Regions from separate parts of the Homo sapiens genome. Here region 1 is linked to region 2. The links come from fine-mapping of genetic effects on gene expression. A gene starts in region 2. The other region holds a variant in brackets. All regions are shown on one strand. Distances are between the middles of the regions. Region 1 overlaps CRIM1 (cysteine rich transmembrane BMP regulator 1). Region 2 holds the start of FEZ2 (fasciculation and elongation protein zeta 2).

Evidence for each region. PIP is the estimated chance that this variant, and not a neighbour inherited with it, causes the effect.
Region 1: its variant is fine-mapped to the expression of FEZ2 in thyroid (GTEx, PIP above 0.99). The same link has a PIP of 0.9 or more in amygdala, prefrontal cortex, spinal cord and tibial nerve.

Annotation. Positions count from the first base shown.
Region 1 is chr2:36,548,502-36,556,834 of GRCh38, reverse strand. CRIM1 (cysteine rich transmembrane BMP regulator 1) reads right to left here. Exons shown (of 17, transcript NM_016441.3): 17 at 5,700-8,310. The coding sequence ends at 8,134. It overlaps FEZ2 (fasciculation and elongation protein zeta 2), which reads left to right. Exons shown (of 8, transcript NM_005102.3): 7 at 1,087-1,152; 8 at 3,656-4,577. The coding sequence ends at 3,672. Among named protein-coding and RNA genes, the nearest start is that of FEZ2, 46 kb to the left of the region's middle. The variant A/TTTAAA (reference allele first, on the strand shown) is at 4,372.
Region 2 is chr2:36,594,724-36,603,056 of GRCh38, reverse strand. FEZ2 (fasciculation and elongation protein zeta 2) reads left to right here and starts at 4,889. Exons shown (of 8, transcript NM_005102.3): 1 at 4,889-5,180. The coding sequence starts at 4,915. RefSeq lists enhancers at 2,041-2,966, 3,894-4,820, 4,821-5,748 and silencers at 4,821-5,040, 5,081-5,440.

The sequences.
Region 1 (8,333 bases), 46 kb after region 2:
GATTTTGGGTGCAATAATAATAGTTAATAAAAATTTAAATAATTTGAGTAGTGTTAGTTACAGTTAATACATAGCATGTACTATGTGCCAGGCACTATGATATGACCTTTATATCTGAATTAGTAGCTTAGTCCTCATAACAAACCTTTGAGATTAAATCTAATTATTATTCTCATTTCACAGATGAAGAGCTTGGTGCAAAAGTGGTTAAGTAGCTTGCTCAGCGTCACACAATTAGGAAGTGGCAGAGCCAGGGTTTAAACCCAGGAAGGCTGATTTGACAGTTACACTATTTTGCCTTGTCGTATTGGTGGGGAAAAACAGTGAAATATTTTTACCAGGATGCTTTGGAGAAAATTTGAGTTGGCAATCTCTGTTAAAGTATAATATTTGTGAGTTTATCTCAACCTGAATGGTCTAGCTTAAAAAAGAAAAACGTTATACTAGGTGGCTGCTTTTTCTATTTTAGTTTTTACTTAGAAGATAAATTTGTCAAATTAGAATGAGGCTAATTCTCCCAGGTTTCTCCCTAGTGCAGAGGAGGCAACAGCCAGGCAGATGCCCGATGCTGCTTCATGGAAGTCTGTTCTTCATTTGGGTCTTTTCTTTGAAAGTTTCTAAGGAGTCTGACAGGATACGCTTGTTGGAGGGTATAGCTGTCCATTTCTTTAAGAGTTTCTCTAGTTTGCTTGATCTGCAGCACTGAGGTTTTCTTGCTGCACAGAGTTCATTGAGGTGCACATTATAGTAACCCACTTTCCGGTATTATTACAGAGCGAAGGCTCCTTGTAAATAACCCAGTTCCTCTTTTTTTGTCTCCACTGTTTGGAAATTTTAAATCAGGGAAGCAACTCTCAGGTAAGTGGGATATTCTTACCGAAAATAAATTCTTGTGGACTTACTCCACTAAAATAAATTATTGGGCCTTTATTGTTGTATCCCCTTATCAGGAAAATCACCTATAATTTGTATGAGTCAGTTATATCCTATAATTAAGGAAGATTAAGGCCACAATGATTGAAATTAAATAATATTTTTGATCTAAATTTTTAATTGTTGTCTTTTTTCCCCTCTTCTATTTTGCAGTTCTTCGTGCCATGAAGGAGGACAGTGAAAAAGTTCCGAGCTTGTTAACTGATTATATTCTGAAAGGTGAGTTTTATAATGGTATAGGTGCGATGGCTGGGAGGTTTGGATTAGTCAGTAAATACATCGCCTTGCTAATACATTAGACAGTAACTTCCCAATGCACAACTTTCATTAATCTTATTATGCAGGGTGAGGATTAGCTACATGACTGACTTCTACCAACATTATATATCATGGTTTTATATAATTTAAGTTTTATTGGAGGTTCTGGGTTGGAAATAATCTCCACAGTTAAACTATAAACATCAAGAGAGGTAGTAGAAGAAAATTAGTGAGATGGCACCATAATCATGTGGGTATCAGATGTTGGCAGATTGGCACTGGGAAATTTGAGAAGGGTGGTCTCTGTCATCTTGAGGACAGTGGAAAGGAGGACAGATCATTAGTGAGGACGGATGAAGGAAGGAAGAGTCACATCTGTGAACAGTGCCAAAGGGAATACGAAAGGGACTGATGTAAGACACAGGGAGGGAAGCGGGGAAATAAAAAGAATGGACTTGCATAAACCCAGGAAAGTGAAAAAGCAGCCACAAATCTTAGAGGCAAGGTGAGGCTCACACAGGGTGGGAATATTGATGAGGCAAAAGAAGAGTGAGAGGTTGAGTTGCTTTGCCGAGAAAAGAGCAAAGTTTGGATGATAAAGAAGGGACGGAAGAACTTAATTAGAGGCAAAATTAATACTTTACGATGAAATATTTTTTTAAAGTAGCAGGTATTCAGGGACCAGATTTTGAAAGCATCACAAAATGCATCTTTGTAGTGTTTGATCAAATTTTGAGAGCAATCCTCTTCTAGTAACAGTCTTCTTCTCTGGGTTCTCTCTCTTCTCCATTAAAGTTAGCTGAGCACAAGGAAGATGAAGATTTCTGAGACATTAGAAACCTCTGATGGTCTTTTCTTAAACCATAGTGTCATGAAAGGGGAACCTCAGTAGTATACACAGGGTGCTCAAAGTGAATCACACATTTCACTTGTAAGAGTCTTGATGCGGTGAGAGTAAGAAGCATGAGCTAGACACTAGTGGGTTGACACTGGAGTAGAACAGACTGAGTTGACATCATTTTAAAAAATAAGCTTTTTTTCTGATGGAGGACTTTTTCTCCCTATAAAATTCTGAAAAATTTTTTTTTTAATACCTGACATCTTTGTTTGCTTTTGTGTTGTGCTAGCATTGGTATGAAAGCTGGATTGTTCTGAGGTTCGTTCTTCTAGATGTGAAACAGGAATGAGACGAACATAAAGAACATGTCTTAAATTTTAATTATATCGGGTTCCTAGGCCTCTATGAGGGCCAGAGATAGAATGAGCTTCTGAAGCATTCTCTAGCTATTTTAGCATTTAACTGCATGGAAGGATGTTATGACCCAAAGAACAGAGTCCTCTGGGGAAAAATGATTTTTAATTCTTTACTCTGAAAACCTAGGACTATAATTGTGAACCTACCTATACCGCATGCCTTAGGGAAGCAGCACCCATCTAATTCTGCTCCTCATGCTCGGGCCGCTGGCTCCTGTCTGTAAGCCCAGTTCTATCTATACTGTACCTGCTTCTGATGAGCTGTCTGTGTGCATGTGTTGTGGTTTTGTCTTGGCTTTGTATTGTGAGGACTGGGTGGAAAAGCAGCAAGGATTTAGACTACAGTGGAGACTGTAGTCAGAGAAAATGAAGACGGGAGTGCAATGTGGAGATGTATTTACCCAAATGTGTGTGGGAAGGTGGGGAAGTCGGGTCATTGAAAATGCTCTTTTCCACCCATCCTGAAAGTTCACAGCTGGTTAACTGTTCCTCTTCCTTGGGGACCAATAATACGACACTTTGCCCGGGAGGGGGATATTGCTCAAGGGGAGAATACTCCTTCCCCTTTTTTGGGTGGTTTGTTGTTGTTTTAACACAGATGAGAGTGTGGCTTGGCTGCCTAAATACACCACTTAGTTTTAATGCAAATGTCAGAAGTGAAAGAAGGTAGAAAAGTGGTCTCATTTGGCCTGAGAAAAGGGAGTAGGGTGGGCACTGTATGGGCTAATTGAGCTTCTCTTTCTCGCACCTGCCTAATGACCCCACTGCAGCCTGCCGCCACTGCTGCCTTGACAGTAGTACCCAAGGCTGATTCTGAAGTAATGTACGCGTGGCTGCTGCCGTGCTGCTAGTTAGGAATAAAAATGTGTGCAGAAACTTGCACCCTTCTTTGACTTCCCTAGGGATCCTGTTTGTTGTGTCACAAGCCTCATGGTATAGGGCGAATGTTAGGGGCTTCTATCTCCAAGTGGCACCCTAAGAGACATGGCCTTTTGGTATCTCATTTCTGGGAAATTCTAATGTGTGTTGAGAGAACTCATCCTTGTTGGGTATAGCCTCTTAAAACCTTTAAAAAATTGCTACATAGATCTTTGCATTAACATTTAGTTCTCATTACTTAATGGTTTTTAAATGTACATGTAAAATGTATGTTTTGTGTAAATGTATACAAAATATACATTTGTAGCTAAAAGTTCTCTTTTTCTTCTAGTTCTGTGTCCTACATAGAGCAGCAACTTTATCTGCGGTGGGCTCCAAGCTAGATTTCCGACAGCATTATTCTGAGAGCTGGCTACCATTACCCTTCTTGCTATTGGAAACTCAGCACATTTGAACTTGGGTTTGATTCAGTATTAACAGATCTTGACTACACTAATTCTTTATATTATAGAACCAACGGAAATATGGGCACTATTTTGAATTCTAGAGATGGTTTTTGTTAAATCTACTAATAAACTGTTCTCTTAGTAGATTAAGAGAGAGTAATATTAATTGTGCATGTGCAGTTGTATTTCTCATTAACTGACAGTATGCCCATTTGTTTTTATGGCTTTCTTATCTAAACTGCACTGATGAACTAGATTAAAGCCTTGGGAGATTTATACTATAAATTCAGTGATGGCAAGAACCAACACTGTTTTTTTGTGAGAATTGTCAGTGTAACTATTACCTACCAGTATTGTTCAGAGAGATTGAAACAGAATAAACGGGCTGTTCTTGAAGAAGCAAAACCAGAATATGCATTACTTTGGTTTAATACTTAGTGCTAACATTGAAACTGTTGGTGGTGATGGATTTTGTAGCTTGCTGCTTGTTTCACCACTGGTCAAATTTTAACCATTAAATTGCCATTCACTTTTAGAATCTTGTATTTAAGTTTTGATTTTCAAATGTTCTGCTTCATGTGTCTGTGAAGAATTGTACTTT[A/TTTAAA]AGTGTGTGTCCTCTGAGGTGCTTGAGAAAGTGTACACTGCAGAACTGCCCATTCTCATTACTGTGTCCTATTTTATTCATGCCTGTGTGTTTTTCTTAAGTATGAATTCTAGATACAGCTACTTATGGATTCATCAATATCATGAGCACTTTTGCTGGTTCCAGTCAAATCAATGGCATTTAATAAATTTTTTAAGAAGTAAAAATACATGTTTGAGAGCCTTATATTTGGGAGTTTTGTGTTGTATTTTTTTTTTCCTTACAGTGCTAGATTCTTTCCCTTAATTCCACACAGAACCCATCGCTACAATATGTGAGCAGATGAAACCCTGATTAGTCCCAGAATGCTACGAAGGGGAAGAGGAGGACGTTTATTAGAGTATGCTGAGCTGCTGTGGAATGACAGAAGTAAGTCCTGCTCTTTTTCTGGGGCTGTGAGACATTTCAAAAACAGCCATGCAGACCCCTCCCATAGACGACATGAATGAATTAAGAGTCTATATAGGACCTGCTACAGGCGGCTTTCACAATTCCACTTAAACACCTGTGAGCAAAACAAACAGGGCTAACATATTCCTCACTCCACTCAGCAACTGAGACACCATGACTGCAAAGGCAGGGGCGCGGTTTGAAGTTTAATGCCTGCTTGGCATTTCAGCCATCATCTCTAGGGGTATGAGAAACTCGAGATGGTTTCCTTGTTTTATTAATGTTCTTATTTGGAACTTACTGGCCCTTTCCCCAGATACATGTACTTACACAGTAATATTAATAATTTAAATTAATTTGAATTTGTAAAAATGACGCCTTGTACTGAAGAAATGTAGCTTTAAAGGGTATATGATATAGTAGAAAGTCCTTAGGGGGATATATTTTTTTAAAGGAGATTCAACATTGGTCTGTTTATAGCTCATTCTTAAATTGATGCTTCTAAAATGTATGAAAATATACCTATTTATTTTTTCCTGTCAGCTCAAAAAGTCTCTTTGCAGTTAGGCTTCCCCTGATCGTGCTCGGTAAAGTCTTTCTTCTTCAGCATCGAACCACTGTAGGATTTCCCACCACAGTCCTCCTGTGCGTAGCAAGTTAATTTTGATACCAGCTATGAGCACGTTTCTGACAGCAGGTAGGTTTCTTGTCTCCCTAAAAACAGCATCGCTATTCTCTGTACTCTGGGAGACACTTTTCTTTTTGCAAGGATACCTTGGGAAAGACCCGCCTAATGACAAAAGCACGGGACTTCTTGTTACACCAGGGGTTCATTGGACTGATAACCTTAAAAGTCTTTCGGATCTCAGAGATGGAATCTTTTTGCAAGTTACACTGTGTGATTTCAACTCAAAATGTTTATTTCCTGCCAAGAATCAAGTTGCAGATAATTCTCTTACAGCTTTTTTGAAGAAAACAAAAACAAACTGTAGAACTATGATGCACTCCAAGTGCCATATATCTATTTTATTCTTCAGGAAATTATATTTTTCTTTTACAAGAGCACAACAGGAACCAAAGTAAAAGAGTAATAGATACAGCACTCAGGATAAATCATATCTTTAAAATAATAATAAAAAAATTTACACCTTGTCCTATATCCTGTTAGTATTTTCATAATATGGCCATGATTGAAAAAACAAAAAGCAAGCATCTACAATTTTTTTTGATAAAGACTTTTTATGCCAGGAATGGATTAATTACCAACAAAATTTATACTAATCAGGCTGATGTCAATCTATTTTTGTAATGTATCATTAACAAATTTATTTTGGAAAAGATAAAAATATTGCCCCTTGATAATAAATCTTTTTTTCCTTTGATGCAAACAGCTAGAACACCTTTTTCTTTTTCTTTTTGATATTCTAAGACAAAAAAATGGTTAATCTTCAGATTAATAAATTAGGTCATTATAATAATAAATTAATTTTTTTTAAAGTTCAGCAACCTCTGTCCAAGTATTTACAACAATACTTGAAAGTTCCTTTACAAAACAGAACACATTTTCTTTTCACGTTAAGCATACTGGGTATCTGTGTCTTTCACAACAAGCATTTTTAAAAGAAAACTCAATGCACAAATGGGTTAATTAGTATAAAAGTGCTAAGGGCTGTTTGAAAAGTTACCACTATAGTATACAGTCAGTTATATTTGAGGCATACTACAACAAACTTCCAGCTTATTGTGGACAATATTCCAGTAGTTGTTTCAAACCATTGTTTGAAAAAAAAAAAAAAAAAATCCAGGAGCTGATTAGTGATGCAGATAAGAACTGCCATCAATGTCTCTGGCCAGTGAGCAAATTGAAAACCAACTGAAAGCAAATCCAAATGAGGAAGATTTTAATAAAGGAATACCCTTCTCCATAGCAGGTGCAATGCTGACTGCTCAAGGCGTGCGTGCGCGCGCACACACACACACACACACACACACATACATACTCTCACACACACATCTTTCCAATTAAACTGCAGGTAGAATGAGATTTTGTGTTATTCAAAAAATTTGTAAGTGATCAAAAGCACTGCTATGGAATGCCTGTTTATCTGCCTTTGTTCTGGTTAAAATCTCATAAAAATACATTCAACAGGAAAACATAAATTGTATGTGTATAAATATATATGTATATATATATATTATATACACATGCACACAAATACTTTTGTTTTTTGAAGCATAAGATAGTTACATAAATACTCCTATAATTGCTAAAGTTTAAAGAGGCATCATTTTTTTTGAGCTTCAACAAAGGTGCTTGAATAATATACAATTAAAATGAAGTAGTTTCTATTTTGTAGAATCAGTATATAATAAGGAAAAAGAATCCCCAAACAGTCTTTTTAAAAAAAGTTTCTTCTTAAGCTAGAGCTTCAACAAAAACTATGAACAACCAACAATATAACAGAACAAAGCAACAACAAACAGTGAAATATAGCCCCTGGAAATGCCTGGTGTTCGTCACCCTCTCCCTCCTCTTCCTGTCACGTTGTAAAAAAAAAAAAGCTCCAGTGCTCACATCAAGAAATGACTTAGATCTTGTTCATGTGCTGACTCTGCTAGGAACTGGCTGATTGATTGGCTTGGAAGAAAATAAAAGCAGCAAAAAGTGTAACTGTATATATCCTTAATAACCCGCTTTAGAGAAATGCCGCTATCGCATTTCTCTGGCTTCCTCACTGCCTACTGCAGTTGTGACTGTATAGAAAAGAAACTTGTGGCTTTAGACCTGGGATGGCTGTCAAAGGGTTCTGATGTGCTCGTCTGGTAGTTCTAAGGTGGTTATGGCAGCTGGGTCGCAAGGCCTTTTTTGTTTCCTGCTCATTCAGGCCTGAGCTTTGCAGCAACCAGTGCAGTCTTCAGAGCAATAGGAAAAAAATAACCTCTGGGCCACTGAACTGCTTTTATGTTACCAGGTTTCTCCCCGAGCCAAGCTGACCAATTTTTCTTCCCAACACCACCCTCCCACCCATTTCCCCATCCAAACTCACTGTCCCCACCCCAAATATCTCTACAGCTATCTTACAGGCAAATATATCTTAGCAACTTTAAAAACTTTGGTTCTAAGAAAACACTTGGTCAGTTATCTTGAGGAAAAGTGGGAATGCTTGTTCTGCACATTGCTGTAGACAGAGCCCATCCCAGTAAGGTCTTAGCGCTGTACATCAAGTCACAATCCAATACAATCCACTAAGCAAGTGCACAAATTCTAGTTTACTTTTTAGAGCAGATTTAGTCGTCTTCCGTCTTTTGAAACCTCATCCTAGTTGCCTTTCTTCACACTGTTTGGTAGAAATTGTCTGCCTGTAGATGGTTCTGTTTTTGCATGCTGTAGAAGCCACTGAATCTTGCATCTGGTTCTGCAATTCTTAGCATTCTCTGGGAACTGTCCACCTGGACTCTGGTTCCTTTCTTGCAGTCCACAGATACTAGCTGATTATTTAAGGAAGAAGGCTATTTAATGAGAGGAGGAATAA
Region 2 (8,333 bases):
TGCTGGTGTGTGGCGATTAGGCCTGGTGGAACTGCCATCAATAAATCAAGTGTGATCGGGGTGAGGAACAGGAAAGAAGGAAATACGGGGAAATGGGGTGAATATCAGGTGGATCAGAGAGATACAGTCATGGGGGTCAGGTGTGGTATCAGGAATAATGTGGGAGGCCGGATTGAAGTCCGGGCCAGGAACAATGGTAATTGTGGGACTTAACAAAGAGTGAGTACAGCTGAAGGAGCCGGGGAGCAGAAAGTATATGCGTCAGGTGTGAGAAGAAAATAGATTTTGGAAGTTATGAGAAATGTAGAGAATGAGTTGAGCATAGTTTGTGATTTTTAGGGCCTCTAACAGTATTAAAGCAGCGGCAGCCACTGCATGCAGACATGAGGGCTAGGCTAAAACAGTAAGGTCAAGTTGTTTGGACAGAAAGGCTACCCGGTGTGGTCCTGGCTCTTGTGTAAGAATTCTGACCGCACTAACCATGCCTAGGAAGGAAAGGAGTTGTTCTTTAGTAAGGGATTGAGGTTTGGGAGATTAATCGGACACGATCAGCAGGGAGAGCACGTGTGTTTTTACGAGAATTATGCCGAGATAGGTAACAGATGAGGATGAAATTTGGGCTTGACTGAAGTAATGGGGGCTGTCTGTGAAGCCTTGCGGCAGTACAGCCCAGTCAATTTGCTGAGCCTAATGGGTGTCAGGGTCAGTCTAAGTGAAGGCAAAGAGAGGCTGGGATGAAGCGTGCAAAGGAATAGTAAAGAAAGCATGTTTGAGATCCAGAACAGAATAATGGGTAGTAGAGGGAGGTATTGAGGATAGGAGAGTATATGGGTTTGGCACCACGGGGTGGATAGGCAAAACAATTTGGTTGATAAGGTGCAGATTCTGAACTAACCTGTAAGCCTTGTCTCGTTTTAGGAGAGGTAAAATGGGGGAATGGTAAGGAGAGTTTATAGGTTTTAGAAGCCCATGCTGTAGCAGGCGAGTGGTAACAGGCTTTAATCCTTTTAAAGCATGCTGTGGGATGGGATATTGGCGTTGAGTGGGGTAAAGGTGATTAGATTTTAATGGGATGGTAATGGGCATGAGATCGGTTGCCAGGGAAGGAGTAGAGATGTCCCATACTTGTGGGTTAAGGTGGGGGGATATGAGAGGAAGACACGAAGGAGGCTTTGGGTTGGGGAGAAGGGCGGCAATGAGATGTGGCTGTAGTCCAGGAATAGTCAGGGAAGCAGATAATTTGGTTAAAATATCTCGGCCTAATAAGGGAACTGGGCAGGTGGGGATAACTAACAAAGAGTGCATAAAAGAGTGTTGTCCAAGTTGGCACGAGAGTTGGGGAGTTTTAAGAGGTTTAGAAGCCTGGCCGTCAATACCCACAACAGTTATGGAAGCAAGGGAAACAGGCCCTTGAAAAGAAGGTAATGTGGAGCAGGTAGCCTCCGTATTGATTAAGAAGGGACGGACTTAACCTCCACTGTGAGAGTTACCCGAAGCTTGGCATCCGTGATGGTCTAGGGGGCTTCCGAGGCGATTGGGCAGTGTCAGTCTTCAGCCGCTAAGCTGAGAAGATCTGGGAAGGAGTCAGAGAGCCTTGGGCCAGAGTTCCAGGGGCTCTGGAAGTGGCTACCAGGTGAGTTGAACAGTCCGATTTTTCAGTGGGGTCCCGCACAGATGGGACACGGCTTAGGAGGAATCCTGGGCTGTGGGCATTCCTTGGCCTGGTGGCCAGATTTCTGGCACTTGTAGTAAGCTCCTGGGGGAGGAGGTTCTGGAGGAACCCCTGGCCGCTGCGGTTCGGGCGTTTGGAAGTTCTTGTGTGCTGGAGATGTGGCTGGGGTTTGTCTCACAGTGGAGGCAAGGAATTGCAACTTTATTCTATTATCGTACACCTTGAAGGTGAGGTTAATTAAGTCCTGTTGTGGGGTTTGAGTGCCAGATTCTAATTTTTGGAGTTTTATTTAATGTTGGGAGCAGATTGGGTAATAAAATGTATATTGAGAATAAGACGGCCTTTTGACCTTTTAGGGTCTAGGGCTGTAAAGCGTCTCAGAGTTGCTGCCAAACGAGCCATGAACTGGGCTGGATTTTTATATTTGATGAAAAAGAGCCTAAATGCTATCTGATTTGGGATAAAGAAAAAGGAGCATTAACCTTGACTATGCCTTTAGCTCTAGCCATCTTTTTAAGAGTAAATTGCTGGGCAGGTGGGGAAGAGCTAGTCGCGGAACTAAACTGTAAGCCAGACCAGGTGTGAGGAGGGGAGGTGATAGAAGGATTATAGGGTGGAGGAGTTGGGGCTGAGGAAGAATTGGGACTTAGCTCGGCCTGGCGACGAGCAGCCTGGGGAGGAGGGGAAAGGTCAGATGGGTCTGTAGAAAAGGAAGACTGGAAAAACTCAGCGACGCTTGGGGTTGGGACTGAGGGGATAGGCAGGAGGGAAAGGAGGATCTGGGAGGAATCGCATTGGGAACAGAGGCTAGGGAGGGAGTGAAGTGTGAAAAATGCCTGGACGTAAGGCACCTCAGACCATTTGCCCATTTTTCTACAAAAATTATTTAGGTCTTGTAGGATGGAGAAATCGAAAGTGCCCTTTTCTGGCCATTTAGAGCCATTGTCAAGTTTGTATTGGGGCCAAGTGGTGTTGCAGAAGAAAATAATGCATTTAGGTTTTAGGTCAGGTGTGAGTTGAAGAGGTTTTAAGTTCTTGAGGACAGGCTAAGCGAGAAGGAGGAGGAATGGAGGATGGAAGGTTGCCCATAGTGAAGGAGGTAAACCCAGAGAAAAGAGAGCGTAGAGACATGGAGGGAAGGGGTTCGGGGTTGTTACCCTCCAGAAAAGCGGGAAGGGGGGTTGGGGCACGGAAATAAGGGATTGGGGCACAGAGATAAGAGATTGGGGTGTGGAAATAAGGGATTGGGGGTTCTTGCCACCTAGAAAAGCGGGACTTGCCGCTAAGGGTGAAGGAGAAGGGGTTGAGGGGTTCTTGCCCCTGCCCCAGAAAAATCACAGAAGGGGTAGAGACAAGGAGAGAAGGGGTTGGGGTACTCGCCCCTTCCTCAGAAAAGCGGGACTTGCCGCTAAGGGTGAAGGACCAAGGCAGGCGTCCCTGCGTGGTCTGACACCTTTGAAACGTGGGTGAATAATCAGAGGCGTCCCTGCAATGATTAAACACCAAGGGAAGGCTGCCTTCCCAGCCCGTGACCGGCGCCGGAGTTTTGGGTCCACGGATAAAACGTGTCTCCCTTGTCTCTACCAGAAAATGAAAGGAACTGAAATTAAGAGAAGGGAGAGATTGAAGTGCGGCGCCAAGATTGAAAGGAGAAAGAGGTTGAGGGATAGTGAGGGAAGCTGGAGAAGACAGTAAAAAGAGGCCGCTTACTGGATTTGAAATTGGTGAGATGTTTTTTGGGCTGGTCGGTCTGAGGACCTGAGGTCGTAGGTGGATCTTTCTCATGGAGCAAAGAGCAGGAGGACAGGGGGATTGATCTCCCAAGGGAGGTCCCCCGATCCGAGTCACGGCACCAAATTTCATGTGCGTCCGTGTGAAGAGACCACCAAACAGGCTTTGTGTGAGCAACACGGCTGTTTATTTCACCTGGATGCAGGCGGGCTGAGTCCGAAAAGAGAGTCAGCGAAGGGAGATGGATTATCATTAGTTCTTACAGGTTTTGGGTCAGGCGGTGAAGTTAAGAGCAATGTTTTGCGGGCAGGGGTGGATCTCACAAAGTACATTCTCAAGGGTGGGGAGAATTACAAAGAAACTTCTTAAGGGTGGGGGAGATTACAAAGTACATTGATCAGTTAGGGTGGGGCAGGAACAAATCACAATGGTGGAATGTCATCCTTAAGGCTATTTTTACTTCTTTTGTGGATCTTCAGTTACTTCAGGCCATCTGGGTGTATATGTGCAAGTCACGGGATGCGATGGCTTGGCTTGGGCTCAGAGGCCTGACAGCTAGATTTTGTATTTTTAGTAGAGACGGGGTTTTACCATGTTGGCCAGGTTGGTCTTGAACTCCTGACCTCAAGCGATCCGTCCACCTGGGCCTGCCAAAGTGCTGGGATTATAGATGTGAGCCACCTCGCCTGGCCTACTCCAATTTTTTTGTATTGTAGTAAAATAAACATAAAATTACTATCTTAACCATCTGTAAGTGTATAGATCAGTGGCATTCAGCACATTAACACTGTCGTGGAACCATCACCACCATCCATCTCCATAACTCTTTTCATCTTGCAAAACTGAACCGCCCAATCACACTTAGTTTTTATGAGGTCTAAACAATTTCTTGTTACTCTTATCACTCCGACATTGTAAGCCCTGTGTATGGGGCACCCATGTATTAGTTATAACATACACATAGGGTATCTACTATTAGGCATTGCTCTAAGTGCTTTGCAAATGTTAACTGGCATAATTATCTTTGTATGTTCTGCAGGATCTAGCCAGTGCTTTGCACGTGAGAGGTAAAATATTTGAGGAATGAACTTCGGTACCACCTAAACATTTCCCATTGACTCTGGCTGTTATTCTGGTTGGCAAGTTAGGAAAGGAGCAGGTTACCTTGGGGAAAACGACTTTCGGGGCGTAATCTGATATTAGGTCGTAAGTTTAAAGAAGTCCTTTATTTTAGCCACATTTAGGCCAAGTTGCTAATAAGGGAAGCTAACAGGGAAGTTATTCCTAAATGATAGAGAATATAGGAAGTGACTCAAGGCAGTTAAGGTCTTGGCTTTCTAGTAGCACCGCGTTCAACTCCAGGAAGACTCAGGCCACCGGAGACCCAGGGTTGGGACAGCCTGGGATCTGTCAGCACGGTAGCGGGCGGGGGCGGGGCTTCGGGCCGGGGCGGGGCCGGGCTGGGCGGGCTGGGCCGGCCTGGGCGGGGCGCGCGACTGCTCCGGGCGGCGATGGCGGCGGACGGGGACTGGCAGGATTTCTATGAGTTCCAGGAGCCGGCCCGGAGCCTCCTGGACCAGGAGAACTGTAACGCGAGCCCCGAGCCTGGGGCGGAGGCGGGGGCCGAGGCGGGTGGGGGCGCCGACGGTTTCCCGGCCCCGGCCTGCAGCTTGGAGGAGAAGCTGAGCCTGTGCTTCCGCCCCTCGGATCCGGGCGCCGAGCCCCCGAGGACGGCCGTGCGGCCCATCACGGAGCGCAGCCTCCTGCAGGGGGACGAGTGAGTGCGGGGCCCCGGCCGGGAGTGGGCGGGAGCCTCCCCTACCCCTCGCCCGACCGGCAGCCCTACGGCCGCAGCTCCTCCCTGCGCCCTCCTTCCGCCCGGACGCGGGAGTCCCCGCCCTCTCGCCTCCTTCCTCCGGCCGTCGGCCTCGGCTCGCCCAGCAATTTAAATCCCCTGCCCCCCGCCGCCACGAGCCCTGAAAACCTCCGCCTCGGTACCTCCCGCCCTCCTTCCTGCAAACCAAACCCTCGTTTGTATTAGAAGGGAATCGCCCATGCAGAGCCCATAGTTAGAGACGGCACCTCCTGGGGCACCTCCTGGGGCACGTGTGTCGCCATTCATTCACTCAAGTCGCATTTATTAAGCACCTGCTGAGTGCCAGGCGCTGCTTCGCACAGGGAACACCAAAACGACTGGGCACTGTCCCTCCCACTTAGGACACAACGTAGGATGGGAGATAGATTTGTAAACAAATACATGTATGGATGTAATTAGCGCTGCAATGGTTATATGTACCAAATGTGAGAGACTTAAAAGCGTGTGTCTTGGGGAGAGTAAGGAACGACTTTATAAAGAAATGTGCAAACGAGATCTGACTGATGAGTGGGAGTGTGCCTGGCAGGTGGAAAAAAGTCTAACGTTCTAGGTGGAGTATATTGCCTGTGCATAAGTACCAACGTGCGAGGCAGCATTTAGGGCACAGGAATCTGTGGGACCCACCCGGGAGCCCTGGTAGAGTGCGAGCCGCCACAGAGACGAAAACGAAGGGCCCTGCTTACTGATGGTAACGATCGCATGGTCTGGTGGGGAGACCAAGGCATACACAAGTAATATTAATAATTACAGAATCACCTAAGAGCAATGATAGGAGGTTCACGGGGTTTTATCACAGCTGGGAGAGGTGAGGCGCAGAGTTCCTGAGGGCACTTTTTAAACCACCTGAGCCGCAATTATAATTTGGTTAAGTAAGAGTTGTAATTAGGTACCATGGTTTTACCCCCAAAAGATGGTAAATAGGAATGGTGAGAGTAAAGGGACTTGAGCATGTTGTGTATATAGGGGGAGAGGAGCCTCCGGAGAGGCTGAAGGTAAAATGAGTGGAATAAGATTGGGCGCGGTGGCTCACACCTGTGATCCCAGCACTTTGAGAGGCTGTGGTGGGAGGATGGCTTGCTTCCAGCAGTTCGAGACCAGACTGGGCAATATCGTGAAATCTGGTCTTTACAAAAAAATTAAAAAAAAATTAGTGAAGTCCGGTGGCGCATGCCCGTGGTCCCACGGACCCAGCTGCCCGGAGGCTGAGATGGCAGGATTGCTTGAGTCCTGGAGGCGAAGGTTGCAGTGAGCCATCATCGCACAACTGCACTCCAGCCTGGGTGTCAGAGCGAGACTTTGTCTCAAAAATGAGGACATGGGAAGGAATGGATTTTCAGAGCATTGATGGGATGGAGAGACTCTTAGAGGTTAGGGAAGAATTTTTGAGAGACAGGACAGGAGTCACGGGCACGGAAAGGAGTTTCCAGCCTGATTGTCTCCTTTCCTTTGTGAAACAAACAGATTTATCAGGAATAAGGTAGGAAGCTTGTAAAGACAGCCTTGGGAGTGGGGCCTGTAAACATGGCTGAGCAGTGGTGCAGGCCCACCTGTGTTTGGAGACCATCTCCTTTTATTGGTTCCTCAGTACAGTGTTCTGCCCAGGTGTAGAGAAGGGAAACACTTATAATTGGATTTTATACACACATGCATGCCGTCAGTAGCAAAAGATGACATTTTTGGAAGCCTGTTCCCAAAGAGAAGATAATTTTATGTATATGTAGATTTAGATACTCTGAATCACTAAACCCAGGACACATTCTGGATTTAAAAATTAGTGTAGATGTATTATGTATTTGGGTTTTTCAAGAGTAGCTGACTTAAATCAATTAGAGGATTGTACGTAGATCGTTAAGAGTTTTTGTTTCACTTAGACCGTCAGGAGAGTAGGTTATTTTAGCCTTTGCTTAAAAATATTTTGTCGCTCTTGTTAATGGTATTTAGTAGATGATATGTTGGTGGTAATGCATGTCTCTTGACTTGGGAATGCATATGAAATCTCTTTTTTTCCGGGAGTTGGGAGCTGGTCATCACTGGCATTGTCCCTTTTATATTGCAAAAACATACTCATCATTGCTTGATAGTCTGTTCCAGTTCCCTTTTCACTAGATATAATTGATAATTGTTTTACTCAGATATTGCTGTGCTTTAGGTCAAGGGGTCCCCAACCCCTGGTCCACAGACCGGTACTGGAACTGGGCCACACTACAGGAGGTGAGTGGCTGAGTGAGTGAGCAAAGCCTCATCTGTATTTACAGCTCCTCCCCATTGCTTGCATTACCACCTGAGCCACCTCCTGTCAGATCAGCCACGGCATTAGATTCTCATAGGAGCGTGAACCCTATTGTGAACTGCACAAGTGAGGGTTCTAGTTTGCAGACACCTTATGAGAATCTAATGCTTGATGATCTGTCACTGTTTCCCCTCTCCCCCAGATAGGACCATCTAGTTGCAGGAAAACAAGCTCAGGGCTCCCATTGATTCTACGTTATGGTGAGTTGTAAAATTATTTCATGATATATGACAGTGTAATAATAGAAATAAAGTACACCGTAAATGTAATGTGCTTGAATCACCCCAAAGCCCTCCCCGACCCTTGGCACTTCATTTAACTTCTCTGAGCCTCAGCTTTTGTTTTGGTTAAATATGGATTGTATTTACGTACTGAGGTTTTACTTATAAGAGTATTCTGCAGGATTCGATGTTGGCAGGACTTTGACCTCCTTGCAAAAGAGCTGTCCTGACCGTTGTTTACGACTGGTTGTAATACTTGGTGATAAAGATGAAGGCAGTTCATATGTCTTGACTGCAGAATTCTAGAAATCTTTCACTAGAGTTGCCTCTGTGTCCTTCCAACTACCATTGTTTTGACCTTGGTGGAGACTGTTAGTTGGCTTTCATTTTCTTGGAAGATCAAACTCACTGACAGGCACTTCTAAGTGAAATATTCCATCCCATTTGCCTTTTTCTTATAGCCTTGTTTAAGAAGGAGCAAATCAGCAGACAAAGCAAACTCCTCAAATTCTGGACTGTCTTCACCTGCTAGTGTATCCTGCT